Regions from separate parts of the Homo sapiens genome. Here region 1 is linked to region 2. The links come from fine-mapping of genetic effects on gene expression. Tissue or cell type: whole blood. Region 2 holds a variant in brackets; the other region holds the start of a gene. All regions are shown on one strand. Distances are between the middles of the regions.

The links. PIP is the estimated chance that this variant, and not a neighbour inherited with it, causes the effect.
Region 1: C1orf220 starts here. The variant in region 2 is fine-mapped to the expression of C1orf220 in whole blood (TOPMed, PIP 0.96).

Annotation. Positions count from the first base shown.
Region 1 is chr1:178,539,000-178,547,180 of GRCh38, forward strand. It overlaps C1orf220 (chromosome 1 putative open reading frame 220), which reads left to right and starts at 3,797. Exons shown (of 3, transcript NR_033186.1): 1 at 3,797-3,886; 2 at 6,214-6,904; 3 at 8,095-8,181. It overlaps LOC124904460 (a long non-coding RNA gene), which reads right to left and starts at 3,646. Exons shown (of 2, transcript XR_007066748.1): 1 at 3,035-3,646; 2 at 1,564-2,827. RefSeq lists an enhancer at 3,492-3,551 and silencers at 3,602-3,931, 3,962-4,031.
Region 2 is chr1:178,601,632-178,609,812 of GRCh38, forward strand. No RefSeq gene overlaps it. Among named protein-coding and RNA genes, the nearest start is that of C1orf220, 63 kb to the left of the region's middle. RefSeq lists enhancers at 4,290-4,439, 4,450-4,589, 6,694-6,773. The variant A/T (reference allele first, on the strand shown) is at 3,551.

The sequences.
Region 1 (8,181 bases), 63 kb before region 2:
GTTGTGACCTCTGTAGTTGGTCTGGCTGCTGCATAGTCGCTCTCGCTGAAAGCCACAAGACTTTGCTGGAAGGAAAGCCTTCCTCCCTCGATATGGAGGGCTCCGAGCTTCACAGGCAACCGCAAGGATCTGGCATGTGTCACACAGCAATGCTTCGACAGGCCAGGAATCCCACCTTCAGGGACCCCCAACAGAAGAAGAATCCCAAGTGCTGACACTGTAGAGCAGACGTCAGCTGCAAGCTCAGCACAGCCACTGCAGTGAGAGGTCTTGGTGGAAGCGACAGAGCTGACCTGGCTGACTCGTGCAGGCAATGGACATGGGGAAATATGTGCAGAACTTATCAGTCGGAAGGCTGGAGAACCGCATGGGGAAAATGGGCAGGTATCAAGGCGGCTGGCAGCAGGAGATGCAGGCGAGGCCAAGCTGTGGCCAGGCTGTGGTGAGGATACCGTGGCCGGGACTGCTGCCACAGGACACAGGATGCTACTCTCACAGATGGTCTCCTGGCCTAGCTGCCATGGCCAAAAATAAGTTCTCTTCTGTTCCTGCACCCTAGCCTTCAAAGCCCCACTGGGCTGGGCAGGATAGGAAGGCTGTGACCTCTGCAGGGGTGGGGGACAAGAGGGACACCTGGTTCCTTCCATTCCTTCCATTTCCAGAGGGGCTGATGGATTCCTGCCAAGAGTCACCGGGGAATCCTCCCAAATAGAATGGATGCTGGAAGCTGGACCGCCAAAACAAACAGAACAATAGCAACAAATGCCCATTATATATTGGGGAAGCAATTGTGTCGATGGAAACAATAGAACGAGCTAGTTTTGTCTTTAAACCTAGGAAATAAGGCCAGGCATGGTGGCTCATGCCTGTAATCCCAGCACTATAGGGGGCTGAGGAGGGTGGATCACTTGAGGTCAGGAGTTCGAGACCAGGCTGGCCAACATGGTGAAACCCGGTCTCCACTAAAAATACAAAAATTAGCCAGGTGTGGTGGTGCACACCTGTAATCCCAGCTACTCAGAAGGCTGAGGCAGGAGAATCGCTTGAACCCGGGAGGCAGAGGTTGCAGTGAGTTGAGATCACGCCATTGCATTCCAGCCTGGGCGACAGAGAAAGAGTCCATCTCAAAACGAAAACAAAAACAAAAAACACCAAAAAAACAAATAAATCTAGGAAATAGATGAATAACATCACCTCCCAGGTGAATAAGAGAGCAAAAGACTCTGTGGGTTCATCCTCTCATTCCTCAGGGGAACCATTTCCAAATGAGACATGTACACAGGCAATACCTGCAGGGCGAGCTGCATTCTACATAGACATTCAAAACCGTCTCAATTCAAAACCGTCTCGATTCAGAGGAGTGCAGCTCCTATCTCATGCAGACAGAGAGGGTGGGGTGACTGCATCAGAGGTCTGGTCAGGACTTGAGAGATACAGTGAAATTTGATTGTGGCTGGTGGATGAAGTAAGGTTTGATAGAAATAGAATGGCCCATGCATGTCCTCTGGGGACCCACGGACACCCTGAAATTGTATGCAAAATGTTGCGTGTGTGTTCATGTACTTTTTCTGGAACAAGGTGACAGCCTTTATTGAATCCTCAAACAAAAACAAGCACTGCTCTAGAATAATATTTCCTAAACACACTCATCACCCGACACCCCAAGGCTTGACAGGATGCTCTAAAGTATCCATTTCTGTCCTCATCCGTTCACATGCAGCATTTAATCCCACTTCCCAGCCTTCTGCCCTCTTCTCCTGTCTCCTCTCCATGCTTAACACGCCAGCCCCAGATGCTCCTCCTTGCCACCCAGGGCCTGAGTCATACATCCATCTGCTGAGCTAAATATCTCTACTTGGATGTTTAAAAGGCACCTCAGCCTGAATTCATTCCAACTAGAACTCTTGATTCACACCCCCACGGAAAAACCCCATTCCTCCCCCGGGCTCATCTAGCTCAGTTCACGGCATTTCTCTTTCTGTAAAGCCGGGGAAGTGTGCAGTGGTGAAGTGCTGGGTCCAAATTCCAGCTTTTCCATTTGCTAATGGTGGGACTTTATGCAAACTGATTCAACTCTCTGGGCCTCGATTGCCTCTTCTGTAAAATGTGGGAAGAACTAATTCCTAATTCATAGGAGTGTTATGAAATCTAGACAGGTTAAACTATGTGAAGGGTTTAGAGGAGCGCCTGGCTAACCGTATTAGCCACTGTCATTCTTTTTCTTCCAGTTGCTCAGGACAAATCCTAAGAATGATGCTTATTTCTCTCTTTCCCTCATGCACCACACCCAAGCTCATCAGCAATTCCTGTCCATTCCACCTTCAGATACAGATCACAAATCTGACCTCCTCTCCCCATCTCTGTTGCTACCCTACTCGCCTGGGCCGCATGGTCACTTGTGGTGGTCTCCTAACTGCTCCCCTTGTGTCTACCATGGCCATCATCCCCACACCAGCTCTCCAGGTGGCAGCCAGAGTGATCTTACAAAACCGTAGGTCAGGTCATTGCCCCCTGTCAGACTCAAGCCCATCACAGCCCTTGCTATGCTGACAGGCCCATCCCACCCCAGCCCGCTCCCCCCACCACCTGCCCCCCTCCGCCACCTCACCTGTGCCTTCTGCACGCCTCTCCCACCACTCCCCCTCCCTCCCTTTACTCTGGCCACTCTGAATGTCACTGGTCCTCCTTGAGCCCTCCTGAGCCCTCTGCCCAGAGTAATGCCAGAGTGGAGGCCACAGCTGAAGGCAGAGGCTGTTGGCCTGGGGTGGAGAGGGGAGATTCCTCTGGGTGGAAGGTGACATTGGGCAGCCTTGGATGAAGTGAATACCTGGTGTGGGGAAGCAAAAATAAATAGAGAAACAAACGGATTAATTTTGCTTCTTTCCAGGGACTTGATTTTCTACAAGTGCTGCTCCAAGAGGCTTCTACACCCCCGCAGGGAGGCAAGCACCGTTTTGAGGTGGCCGGGCTGGCGAGGAGGTGCAGACCCCAGCCAGCTGGAGGGGCTCTGCCCTGATGGCGTTCCCACTCCCACCTCATTCGCAGGGCGCCGGGGAGGGCTGCAGGTGTTCTATTCCCACCCGGCTTGCAGCGCAAGGAGGGGAATCGCCTGACACCTTCCCCTTCTCCTCTGCCCCGCTTCCTTTCTCTGCTCCCACAGGTGGAAGTCACCAGCGGAAACAACCCTTCACTGTATGGAGGGCTGGGAGAGAGGGGCCAAGAGGGCCCCGGGAGAGCCACTGGGCGGCAGGCAAGGGGCGGGGCAGTCTCCCTTCCGGCTTCCGGGACCGAAGGGTGAAGGGCAAGGGGAGCTCAGGGAATGAACGAGTGCTCCCGACTAATGTTTAACCCACGACTCCGAGACTCCGACTGGTCACAGTCCTGCAGACCTCCAGGTCCTGCACAGGCGACGCAGCGCTCCACTGGCCCGGAATGCGCACCCCGGGGGAAATGGAAAGTGCCATTGAAATGTCAGATGTCACCGTCTTCATCAGCACTCTTGGAATTTTGGCCAAAGTGGCTTCTTCTTTTGCTGAGACTTGACTCACTCCCGGCAGAGGGATGATAGCGGCCTTGCCCCGAGCGTTTATCCGGCTGCAGGCGTCATTCTTGGTCGCCTGTGTGTCCAGAGCCCCAGCGCAGGAAGGGAGCGCAATTCCCACCGCGCCCGCTGGGTGGCGCTAGCGCCGCACCGTGTCCCGGGATGAGGGGAAACCGCGCTGCCCAGTCAGTACCCCGACGCCCCCGCGCCCCCGCCGGGCCCCGCGCGCTGCAGCCACCGCCTCTTCTCGGCTTCCTCTTGCTTTACAGTAACTCTCCTCCTGGGGAAAAGGCTTTTCACGGAGCAGGCTCGGAGCCTACGGGGCTGGCCTCGGACTGGATGGGGGTAAGGACGGGTGGCGGCGCTCGCGCCGAGCGAACGGAGGGCTCAGGCGGCCGGTGATCAGGGACGGGCTGCGGCCGCCGTCTGGGGTGAGAGGCCCACCCAGAGCTCTGGGCCAGGGCTCGCGGCTCTCGTGCAGATGCTGGGCCGGGAGGTGTGGGGAGGGGGCTTCCCAGGCGGGGCAACCGGAGGGGAATGGGGTGTGCAGGAGGGAGGGGAGGCGTGGAGCGCCCGGCCTGCAGGCACTGGGCGGCGCTCTCCAGCCTCCTCTTCTCCCGCCGGGTGCCTGGTGGCTTGGCCTCCCCTCCAGAGCTTCGCATATCCTGGCGGGAGCCGGCGCTCTCTCTCCATACTTAGGACTTGACCCTTATTCCACACCCGGGCAGGGAATCATTTGCCCAATCCGAATTTGATTTTCTGCTTGTGAGAGGAGAAACTGGTGACAGTGTCGCATGGACACTGTCGGGGAAGCCGAGACGTAGACCTGGAAGCCTGTACCAGAGGCCTTGTGGACAGCTTTGGAGCATGCATCTTAAGGCACACCACCGGTTTCTGCTGCTTTGGCACAGCCACGCAGCACCTAGGATGCTTCTCTGCACGCAGCAGAGGCCTAATCCGTGCACCCTCTGACGGTGTTGGAGGGAGCTGGGGAGCAACATCAGATTAATAGCCCCTGGGCTATTTGTATGACGTGCAGATTTCACCCTCTCATTCTTAAAGGGTGAAAGGCTGCAATTCAGAAAGGCGAAGATGGGGCCCAGGAATCTGCAATCTGCGTGGGGTTTTTTTTTTTTTTATGAAGTCTTGTTCTGTCGCTCAGGTTGGGGTGCAGTGGCGCGATCTGTGCTCACCGCAACCTGTCTTCCAGGTTCAAGCGATTATCCTGCCTCAGCCTTCTGAGTAGCTGGGACTACAGGTGCATGACACCACACCTGGCTAATTTTTGTATTTTTAGTAGAGATGGGGTTTCACCATGTTCGCCAGGCTGGTCTTGAACTCCTGACCTCAAGTGATACGCCCACCTTGGCCTCCCAACGTGCTGGGATTACAGGCATGAGCCACCGCGCCTGGCCAGAGTTTGCATTTTGTTGTTGTCGTTTGTTTGTTTGAGACGGAGTCTCGCTCTGTGGCCCAGGCTGGAGTGCAGTGGCGCCATCTCGACTCACTGCAACCTCTGCTTCCCAGGTTCAAGCGATTCTCCTGCCTCAATCTCCCAAGTAGCGGGGATTAACAGGCGTGCCACCACCATGCCTGGCTAAATTTTTTATTCTTAGTAGAGACAGGGTTTCTCACGTTGGGCAGGCTGGTCTCAAGCTCCTGATCTGCCCGCCTTGGCCTCCCAGAGTGCTGGGATTACAGGTGTGAGCCACCGCGCCTGGCCTGTTTTGTTTTCCTAAATCCAGAAGTTCTGATTCAAGCCTAAACCTGCCACTTCCATTCCCAATCCTCTGAGCTTCATGAGCTCCAGACACAGGGCTGTTAATCACAATTTCTTTAATTCTTTATATCTCTTGTGGAATTAGAGGAGTAGATGTTCTTTCTTTTTGGGAAAAACATTAGAAAATGCCTACATGTCTTTATTGAAAGAACTTAAAAACAATGTATTTCTCTAGGGTTTATTTTCCCTCACGGCTCTCAACCTTCTCAAAATATAAGGTTGGCGGATTAATTATACTGAAAGTCTTCAGTTGGATATTTTATTATAGTATTTTTAAAGTCGTGTTTTGTAATTGCCCTGACAATGTAAGGAATGATATTTGTGAGGGTGAGTCAACAACACCTTCCCTGTTGGTGTCTGCCCTCTAATAACCCCACGGGCTGGATCCCCAGCACCTGGAAGGAATCATCATGGAACGTTAATAAGGAGGAAGGCTGGTTCTGGCGCCTGGAACACTTCAGAGACAGAAAGCAGTGACTAGGCCAGACAGGCCCGTTGTTTTTGCGCTTTGAGAGAGAAGTGAGAAATGGAAAGTAGTCTCTTTATCTTCTCAGCAAATACAGCCTATGCTCAGAATTTCTCCGACTTCCCATCTCTGAGATGCCGGATGCCCAGTTCCACAGAATCATGGCAAGCGAGAAACTGTCGTTCATAAGAGTTCAAGAAAATGAATATTCTCTCAACTCTGTGAGGGCCAGTGGGTTCCAGGCGAGATGAGACAACTTGGTGAGCGTCGTAACTGAGCTCCCAATGCATTTAGAAGCCTCTGGATGGCCGGGGGGTGCATTCCAGCTGTGCTGGAAAAATTATATTTTGAAGTTAAATCTGGTAGTGTTTTTTCCAATATGAATAGGCCTCAGGAAAGAGATAATACATTTCCTTCTTTGTTCAGAGGGTGCTCAACTTGCTGGAGTCATCTCTGCTATGGCTTTATTTGCCAACAACAGAGAACTTGCTCTGCAGCAGCCCCAGGCTCTCTGGGGACCCCACAGGCTATGCAGATCCCCCACCCCAGAACCACAGAAGGAGACAGAGCAGAAGCACACCCCGTCTTCCAGGCCCAGGACAGCTGCTGAGCTCCAGGACACGGACTCTTGAAGGTTGATTTTGACTACTTACTAAGCTCCAGCTGAACCAGTTCCACTTCTTTAACCTTCCCATGATCCCTGTGAGGGGTCTGTGGTATTGCTATTTGCAAGTAAAGAAAGTGAGATTGAGGGAGGCTGAAAGACTTGGCCCCAAGTCACAATGCCCTGCTGAATGTGGTGCTGCCTCCTGGATATCCTGGGTGCTTCAACATCAACAGCTCTTGGCAAGTGAGTGGGCCACGAAGGATGGACGAGGGACATGGGGGAGCAAGCCCAGCTGCACGGTTCCAGCTCTTTCCGCCACATCACAGCTTCTGCAGTTGGGAAGACTGAACAGTGATCTTCAGTTTGTTCGTCAAAGGGCCAAGAAATCTGTGTCCTCACCTTCTCTGCTTCAATTCTGGTGCTGCTTAAGCCGATTATCATTTCATGCCCTAAACCAAAAAATAAACTCTACAAACATCAACATTACATAGGACAGGATCTGGCCCACAGGTAAGAAAAGCACCTACAAGAGAGCTGCATGGAGCTGTGGGTGCATTTCCTGTTACCACCAGGGCATCCCAGAATGCTGACAAAGAGAAAACTAAGACCTTCCCACTCTGATTTGTTACATGTCATAACACCAAGCAAGTGACAGAGGAGACAATTATGGGGCCCAGAGGAAGGTGCCTGTATCATGTAGACAAAATCCAAAGCAGCTTGTTTCAGACAAAACATTTTGCTTTGGAAACTTTTGAAACTTCCATGGCCGTTGAATATAGCAGAGATGATCTAAAAATTTTAGAAGCGGTTGAGGTACCCGTGGTAGGGGCAAGGCATGGGAGTGGTGATCCTTAAGGGGCTTGTCTTTAGTTTGAGGGCCACACACAGAGGAGGTGGGCAGAAAACTGAGGTCTCCCCAGAGCAGCTTTCCAGACAAAAAAAATAAAAAATGACCAAGAAAATACCTGATATAATTGACAATGCCATGAAATGAAAAGTTTATCATAAATTCTAATAAAAACTACAATGGGCTGGGCGCAGTGGCTCATCCCTGTAATGGCAGCAGTTTGGGAGGAGGAGGCCGGAGGATTGCTTGAGGCCAGGAGTTTGACAGCAGCCTGAGGAACAAAGTGAGACCCTATCTGTATTTTAAAAATATACTTTAAAAAATATTTTTAAAAAACAGCAGATGGATATCCCTACTGCATTTGAGACCTGGTTTCGGTTCGACCTCCTCTGGGGAAGCTCACAAGCAACACTAGAATCTCAGCTCTCTCTGTTCGCTGATGTCATCTGAGATTTTTCTTTTTTTTTTTTTTTTTTTGGCAATGGAGTCTCGCTGCGATGCCCAGGCTGGAGTCTAATGGTATGATCTCAGCTCACTACAACCTCCGCTTCCCTGGATCAAGCAATTCTCCTACCTCAGCCTCCTGAGTAGCTGGGACTACAGGCGCGTGCCACCATGCCCAGCTAATTTTTGTATTTTTAGTAGAGACCAGGTCTCACCCTATTGGCCAGGCTGGTCTTGAATTCCTGACCTCAAATGATCCACCCACCTCGGCCTCCCAAAGTGCTGGGATTATAGGCGTGAGCCACCACACCCAGCCCATCTGAGGTTTTTCTAATGTAGAGAATATACCATAGTGTTTTAAATAACCTACCCTCTTACATTTGACTGCACTCCCTTCTTCAACACACAGATTGGGGGCAGGAGCTGCTTTTTCAATGAGAAGAATGAACAGACCTAGTGGGCGTTGCCTTTAGACCCAGGTAAGAGGAATCCCAGC
Region 2 (8,181 bases):
CATGGCTCTGACATATTCTACATATGGAGTTAACAACATGAAAAACACAGTCAAATAGGAAAATCATGTTATCCAACAGAGTTAGACTGTGAAAAGAAGACATTGCATTTTCTCTATTTCTGTGGCATCTAACATCAGAGGACAGGGTAGACCAGATAGCTAGCTAGCTATCTGTTTATCTACCTATTTATTTTGAGACGGAGTCTTGCTTTGTCGCCCAGGCTCAAGTGCAGGGGCACGATCTCAGCTCACTGCAACCTCTGCCTTCCGGGTCCAAGCAATTCTCTTGCCTCAGCCTCCTGCGTAGCTGGGATTACAGGCACCCACCACCACACCCGGTTAATTTTTGTATTTTTAGTAGAGACTGGGTTTCACCATGTTGGCCAGGCTGGTCTTGAACTCCTGACCTCAGGTGATCTGCCCGCCTCAGCCTCCCAAAATGCTGGGATTACAGGCATGAGCCACCATGCCCAGCAACAGCTATCTTTTTAGAATAGCCATAAAAAATATGTCTTTGTTTAGATCACTTCAGAACCAAATGCTCTGAAGCCAGCCTATCCAGAGAGCCTAGATTGATTTGAGGCCAGTCCCTGCAATGCAAGGGGGGGTGTCACAACTCAAAGGCCACTCCTGAGCTTTCACTTTCTTTCCAAAATAATTGAAGTCAGTGGACTGTCCCCAGAGCTTCTGTGAGGTATTCACATTTTCTCTGGAGTGACGTGACTTTTGTAAGACATCTAAGGCATGTATATGTTATACTTTGGCCTGGCTAAATCTGGAGAATGACAGAGGTCTCCAAACCCCGAGGACTGTTGGGTTGATTTGAATTAAATGAGATGCCCCCTTTCTGCAGAAAATGGAAACTAACATGGCTATCTCTGTCCATTACACAAGACTTTTGTAAAACAGTCATGGTTTCTTTCTTAAAATCTGTTTTAAACAGTTGGAAGTCCATATTTCCTTCACTAATAGTCCTCCTATAAGTTGTGGTCATAAACCATTTTTTCAAGACTCAGAGAGCTCTTCTCACTTGGAAAGCCATCACACATATTCATCAATTTGGAATCTGCAGCAAAACTGAGCCTTTTCAGCCTCTTACCTATAGATAAAAAGGCTGAGATCCATGTTTCTACTTACAATTCCTAATTTTGAGAATCCCTGAGCAATACATTTTGATCTTGTGAGATTTTAACTGATCCCTTTCAATTTTCTTTTCACCATACTTAAGAATCTAAGGCTTACAGATACCTTGATTCCCAACTCTCAAAGCTTTTTATATGTACTTTCTTATTTGTTCTCTCAAACCTTACGAAAAGAGGCATTAGTTCTTTCCCAGAAGGTAAAATGCATAAAGTATGTGGACCTGGCATCAGATGAGCTGGTTTAGAATCTTAGATCCACCACTCACCAGCACTCAGACTTCGGGCAAGTTACTTAACCTCTCAGGGACTCAAAGAGTCCTCATCTGTAAAATGGGGTTACCCACACCTATCTCACAAAATTGTTTTGAGGACTAAATTCCACACATATATCTATATAAAGCATTTAGCATGGTGCATAGAGCTAGTTAAAAATTTTGGTTGCTTTTAAAGTTATGGAGAAACAAATGGAGATCCTGGGAGTGTCTCCCAATGTTCAACCATATAGGAACAAGAAGGGAATGGAATCCTGAATCTAGATCATCAGTCTTCATTGTAGTTACTTCACTCATCCCTTTTGCAAGTTATCACCAAAACATCCTGGTTCACCACTAAGAAACTCTCCGTAAGCTGAGCCTGAAATGTCACAAAAGACGTGCCGTTCCTGTGACCTCAAATAAGAACAGGTTCGCTCTTGATTTGTCCAGGTAAAAAGAGCATTGCAAGTGATAGATACAGAAATGCTTATGTACCTCCTTTTTGAATTTATATTAGGTTTTACATTTTAGCCTCTGCATCTGAATGGATGAAAAGTGAGCATATGTAACAGTGGGAAACAGGTTTTTCTGTGGAGGCTCCCAATAAGTAGCTCCCATAGACTATTCACAAAGCCAGGTATATAGTTGGAAATTCTTCTCCTTTACTTCTTGAGTAGCACGAGATTGGCTCAGGCTATCCAGAAGTAGCTTTGAGGTATAAGCAACCACATGGACATGGACTATACCCTGAAGCCCGGCTATAAGGGGCAGAGCACTGAAGGAGGCCAAAAGAAGTTCAAAAGCAGGGGTAGATCCCTGACCCAAGGGCCCAGGGCCTGCCTCTGGGAGTGCCTTGCCCATTTCATTAGATATGAGGGAGAGTCACAGAGCAGACTGGCCCAGTAGGTCCTCTCGGCCACTGAAGGATTATAAAGGTCTTTACCAGTTATAAAATAAAAGGGATGAATGCTGATTTTTCAACAATGTTAAATACTCAGCTTTGAAAGGAGGGTTGTATGGCACCATCAATCTCATCTGTCCCCGCTTTCTCTTTGAGTTCTTGCCTCTAGCACTCAGCTCCACCCACAGTTTTCCCTCCTCCCTGGGACTCTCTCTGCCCTCCCTCATGAGTGAATTGCTGCCCTCTTGGTCTCCTAGTTATGGTAGCACCTCCTAAATGCATCCAAGAACTCACTAGAAAACACAACCAAGATTACAAAAGAGACTCTTTCTTTTTTTTTTTTTTTTTCCAGACGGAGTCTCACTCTGTCACCAGGCTGGAGTGCAGTGGCGCGATCTCAGCTCACTGCAACCTCTGCCTCCCGGGTTCAAGTGATTCTCCTGCCTCAGCCTCCCAAGTAGCTGGGGCTACAGGCGCGCGCCACTATGCCCAGCTAATTTTTTAGTATTTTTAGTAGAGACGGGGTTTCACCATGTTGGCCAGGATGGTCTCGATCTCTTAACCTTGTGATCCACCCGCCTTGGCCTCCTAAAGTGCTGGGATTATAGGCGTGAGCCACCGTGCCCGGCCAAAAGAGACTATTTCAAGCAAAGCAAGTCTTTCGGAGCTCAGAGAAGCAGCTTGGCCAAGATAATGCACATCTGCTCGCATACAGGCCAAACGGACACAGCTTCTTGGGGAGTTTCTTTCCTTGAACTCAACATGATCCCTGAGACCCAGCCCAGAAGTCTTCCTTTTCAGTCCGTAGGTGCCCTAGGAGCATCCCATCTGCTTCCTCCTTTTGTACTCCTCCCTGCCTTTCACAGCGGCTGCTCCAGGCAATCTCACCAACTTCCCGTGGTTATGGAGATAGCTGGGATCTCTGGGTGGAGAATGGGGATTCCTTGTGTGAATGGAGGACATTAACGTAAAGGACATGTTAAGATTAATTTTTTAATCTTGCTATTAAATATTTTCTGGTATCATCTGGGATTATGGTGGTATTTTGTAGGAAAAAAATCCCCAGATAAATGCCATATAAATTAATACTCCTGGATATATAATACCCCTACAGCTTGTTCATGCTTAACTTTTCAGTTAGGTAGTGAGTCCTGTATCTTGCCATTTTTCATTTTCTCAGTCATCCTTCCTGTGTGTGTAGAATAATCTGTAGACAAAAGCTCAAGGAAGAGAGAATCCAACCTAATGGAAAC[A/T]CAACGAAACATTGTGTCATTTACTACCCTTCCCCTCCAATCTCCTCTCCAGGCTTTTATATGTCTTGAGGGTTAGTTTTTATATAAAACTATTAAAATGTATGCTTAATATGTTATATACATCTATACTATGTTAAAAAAAAATGTGAAGAGATTCCTCTCCCTCCACTTCTACCTACCTGCCTGGCCCCCACCACAAATCCCTTGGGTTGGCAGGGTTGGCAGCAGAGGCCTGATCTGGAGGCCAGGTTGAACCACCCCCGAGAGTGAAAACCCACAACAAGAAAGCATCTACAGGCCGGGCGCAGTGGCTCACGCCTGTAATCCCAGCACTTTGGGAGGCTGAGGCGGGCAGATCATGAGGTCAGGAGATTGAGACCATCCTGGCTAACACGGTGAAACCCTATCTCTACTAAAAATACAAAAAAAAAAAAAAAAAATTAGCTGGGTGTGGTGGGCACCTGTAGTCCCAGCTACTCGGGAGGCTGAGGCAGGAGAATGGTGTGAACCCGGGAGCGGAGCTTGCAGTGAGTCGAGATCGCGCCATTGTACTCCAGCCTGGCGACAGAGCAAGACTCTGTCTCAAAAAAAAAAAAAAAAAAAAAAAAAAGCATCTACACAGCATTATTCTGTGCAAAACACAGCCCACAGCAGGTTTCCAGTTGTCAGAACTGACTCCCCAGTGTGAGCTCCTCCACTCCTCACCTGTCATTAAGGGCGTCATTTCCATAGAGAACGTTCTTGAAAATCAGCCCTTCTATGAAGCTTCTTTCCAACATACCCCTCCCTGTTCTTTCCCTTCCACCTGGCAACAGAAGACATTTTCTCTTCTCTTTGAGCACACTGGGACTACATGCAGCTCCTGGGGAAATTCTCCAAAGAAACAGATTCTTGCTTTTAACTCCTGACCTACTCACACAACAGAGCCCACAGCAGGAAGGCCCCATTCTCGGCCTAGTGAGCTGAGGTGTTGCCACCCACTAGGCACAGCTGCTCTGCTAATTTTAGACCTCTCTGAGAAGTCACTTGACTTCAAGGCACTTGGAGACACACATCACACCCTGTCTCAGGAGGTGGTCTGGGGTGGGGCTCACTCTGCTTTCAACACCCATAACACCTTGTAACCTACAAAAGTGACTTTTTTTTGGAGGTTCTCCTCAATAAATGATAAAAAATAAATGACAACACTCAAAATGAGCTGTGAAACTGAAATTTGTTTCCACCTGGTCTAGCCCTGAAGCCTTAGGTGCCTTATTCAGCTGCCTGATCTTTACCAGGCACCACCTCATATTCCACACATCCACAGCTTAACCCTGGTGAGTGCCGCCTGGGGCAATTTTAGTCACCCAAGCTAGGACCCTCAGGACAACCCTGACTACCTTCCATCTCTCTCCAGTCACTAAATCTTAAACTGAAAACTATTTTGTCTCCTAAATAATGTTTGCAAACTTCCCCTCTATTCTGGCACCCTCATCCCATTTCAGGTTCTCTTCAGCGTCTCCCTGCACACTGCAGCAGTTTGCCCACAGTCACCCCGCCTTCTGTCTCATCCTCAAAGTCTAGCATCTATGGTGATCTTTCTAAAACCATGTCTATATCTCACTTAAACCCCTTCAAGGCATCCTGTCAGGTTCTCCAGCCTATCTGCTCATTAGAATCACCTGGGCCCTTAAAAAAAAAAAAAATCAGTTCCTGCTTCCATTCCCAGAGATTCTGATTTAAGTGGACTGGATGGGAGAAAGAAACCATATTTCTTTTTAAAATTTCCCAGGAAATCCTAATGTGCAAACATGGTTGAGAACCCCTGACCTGCAGGATAAAGTCCAGGCTCCTTCCCATGGCACCCAAGATGCTCCTGACTGGGCCCCTGGCCACCCTCTCCGGCCAGCCTCACTCCTGGCCAGTCCATGCCTTTATGTGCCAGCAACACTGAACTGCTTGCAGCTCCCAGCATTGCTTATGCTGTTCTCGCTGTCTGAAGTGCCCTCCCTACTGGTCCAACCAACATCACCTTCTACAGAAAGCCATTCCTGACTACTTTCCCTCACCTCCAGGTGCCCCGTGAAACTTTGGATGTGTCTCTATTACCGAACATTCACATGATTTTATGATACCCATCTTTCTTAAACACAAGGGAGACATTTATTTATACAGGGATAGTTCACAGAGCCCAAAGCTGCTGAAACTATAGCTGGGCCTCTCAAGCACTGGAACCCTGAATTAGAAAGCTTTCAGATACCAAGGTGCTTTCTTTCAGTCATTTTCTCTCACTGGGTTACGTGGCTTCTGGTGTCTGTTCATTGCTTTTGGATCTCCTTGGCAGACAACATTCTCTACCTCTGTGTACCTGGGTGGGCCAAAAATGGGCACTTCACAAAGGCTGAGTCAACTCCTGAAGGCCGTGTTCTCACTTCCAGCAATACTGACCAACATCCTGGCTGTCAATTCTAAAGTCCCTGAAGAGAGAATCTTATTGGCCCAGGGGTTCACCCTTGTCCATCAGCTGTGGCCAAATAGGGTTGCTGCGTAAGAGGCAAGTCTTGAAAAAATAGAGAGGAGTCATAGGATTAGCAGACTACCTAAAAGGTGACAACTATGCCCCAAGAGTCAAGGAATTCTTGAACTATGTGATAACCATGTATAGGTCAGCAATAGAGACCAAGTGCTGTGTGAGCCCAGAGGAGTAAACCATAGTAGTCTTCGATGTCAGGGAAGTCCTCACAAGAAAGTTGGCACTGGGCCAGGCATAAGAGAAAATAAAGGGCAAATGGCAATATCAGCAAGATACCTAAAAATTAGGCTTTTATGTGAAAGTACAAGAAATGGACTGAAATGGTGGCAAGATACCGGGATCAGCAGATGGGCCTAAGTTTGGTTCAGACTGTGAGAGTCTTTAAGTGACAGAATAAAAGTCTGGTCTTCACTGCTCAAGAGGGGGTTCCTCTCAGAGGACCTCAATCACTCAAGTAAGGAGAAGGGGGAGTCAGGAGACCCAGGGAGAGGCCCTTTGGGTCTGAGTTAAAGCAATGAGTCACTTCTTACTACTTAACAATGCAAAAAGCACTTTGCGGCCGGGCACTGTGGTTCAAGCCTGTAATCTCAGCACCTTGGGAGGCCGAGATGGGTAGATTACCCGAGGTCAGGAGTCTGAGACCAGCTTGGCCAACATGGTGAAATCCTATCTCTATAAAAATACAAAAAATTAGCTGGGTGTGGTGGCAGACACCTGTAGTCCCAGCTTCTCAGGAGGCTGAGGCGCGAGAATTGCTTGAACCTAGGAGGCGGAGGCTATAGAGAGCAAAGATCATGCCACTGCATTCCAGCCTGGGTGACAGATCAAGACTCTGTCTCAAAAAAAAAAAAAAAAAAAAAAGCACTTTGCCTGTGTTACTTCCTCTAATCCTCACAGTATCGTAGTGTGGGGGAGAGCTGGCTTTTATTTTACCCAGATTACTGAAGAGGAAAATGTGGTTCAGTCCGGTTATGCAACTTGCCTAAGATCACATAACTAACTGGCAGAAGCATGACTTGAATGTAGATTCTGAAGTCTAATTCTGAAGTCTATTCTCATTCCAGGGCACTGGGCTACCCAGCAATGGAAAGCTCAAGCTAAAACTGCCTTGGGTTATAATATAGAGAAAGACTGAATAATGCTGGAAAAAATATTTTTATTATTGACTAATGACATAGAAAAATGCTCATGATATGATACTGAGTGATGGAGAAAAGATTGACTACCAGACTGCATAAGCATTGTGGTGCTAATCTTAAAAAGTGTATTCTGTGCTCGTCTGTCCTGTGGACAGTGGTCAGGCTTCAGCCCCATCCCTGAGAATGGCCCCCTCTGAAAATCTTCCTTCTTTTCAACTATACTTTGCAACCATGGTGCATTCTTTTGGGTTATTCAATCACAGGGATGAAAATTTTAGTGACTGTCTCGTACCATGAATCATAGCAATTTTAGTCATAAGATAACTCTCACGTTCTACTATAAATAGGGCTGGGCTTTCATTACTAGATACACAGTAACAATTAACAATAAACAGTAGTTTTTCATAAATGGATACTGAGAGAAAATATTACAACCCTGAGTCACAATCTTGGCTAAAAGAATTGTATAATTATCTAATGTATTTTGGACTGTTGAAATATATACTTCATATTGCTCAATGATGGAACATTTTTCTTTATAAGTATTTTGTAAAAGAATCTCTTGTTTTTACATATATTCAACTGGCAAAGGTTAAAAAAAATTTAACCCACTAAAACTTAAAGTATAATAAAAAAAAATTTAACCCATAGTTAGTGAAGGTGAGGGCAATTTGGCAATAACTATCAAAGTTGTAAATATACATGCCCTTTCGCCTAGTAATTTCATTGCTAGGTATCGTTCATATATAATAAAATGTATGTGCAATGTATAAGGATATGTAGTGTAGGCTGGGCGCAGTGGCTCACGCTTGTAATCCCAGCACTTTGGGAGGCTGAGGCAGGTGGATCACGAGGTCAGGAGATCGAGACCATCCTGGTCAACACGGTGAAACCCCGTCTCTACTAAAAAAAATACAAAAAATTAGCTGGGCATGGTGGTGGGTGACTGTAGTCCTAGCTACTCGGGAGGTTGAGGCAGG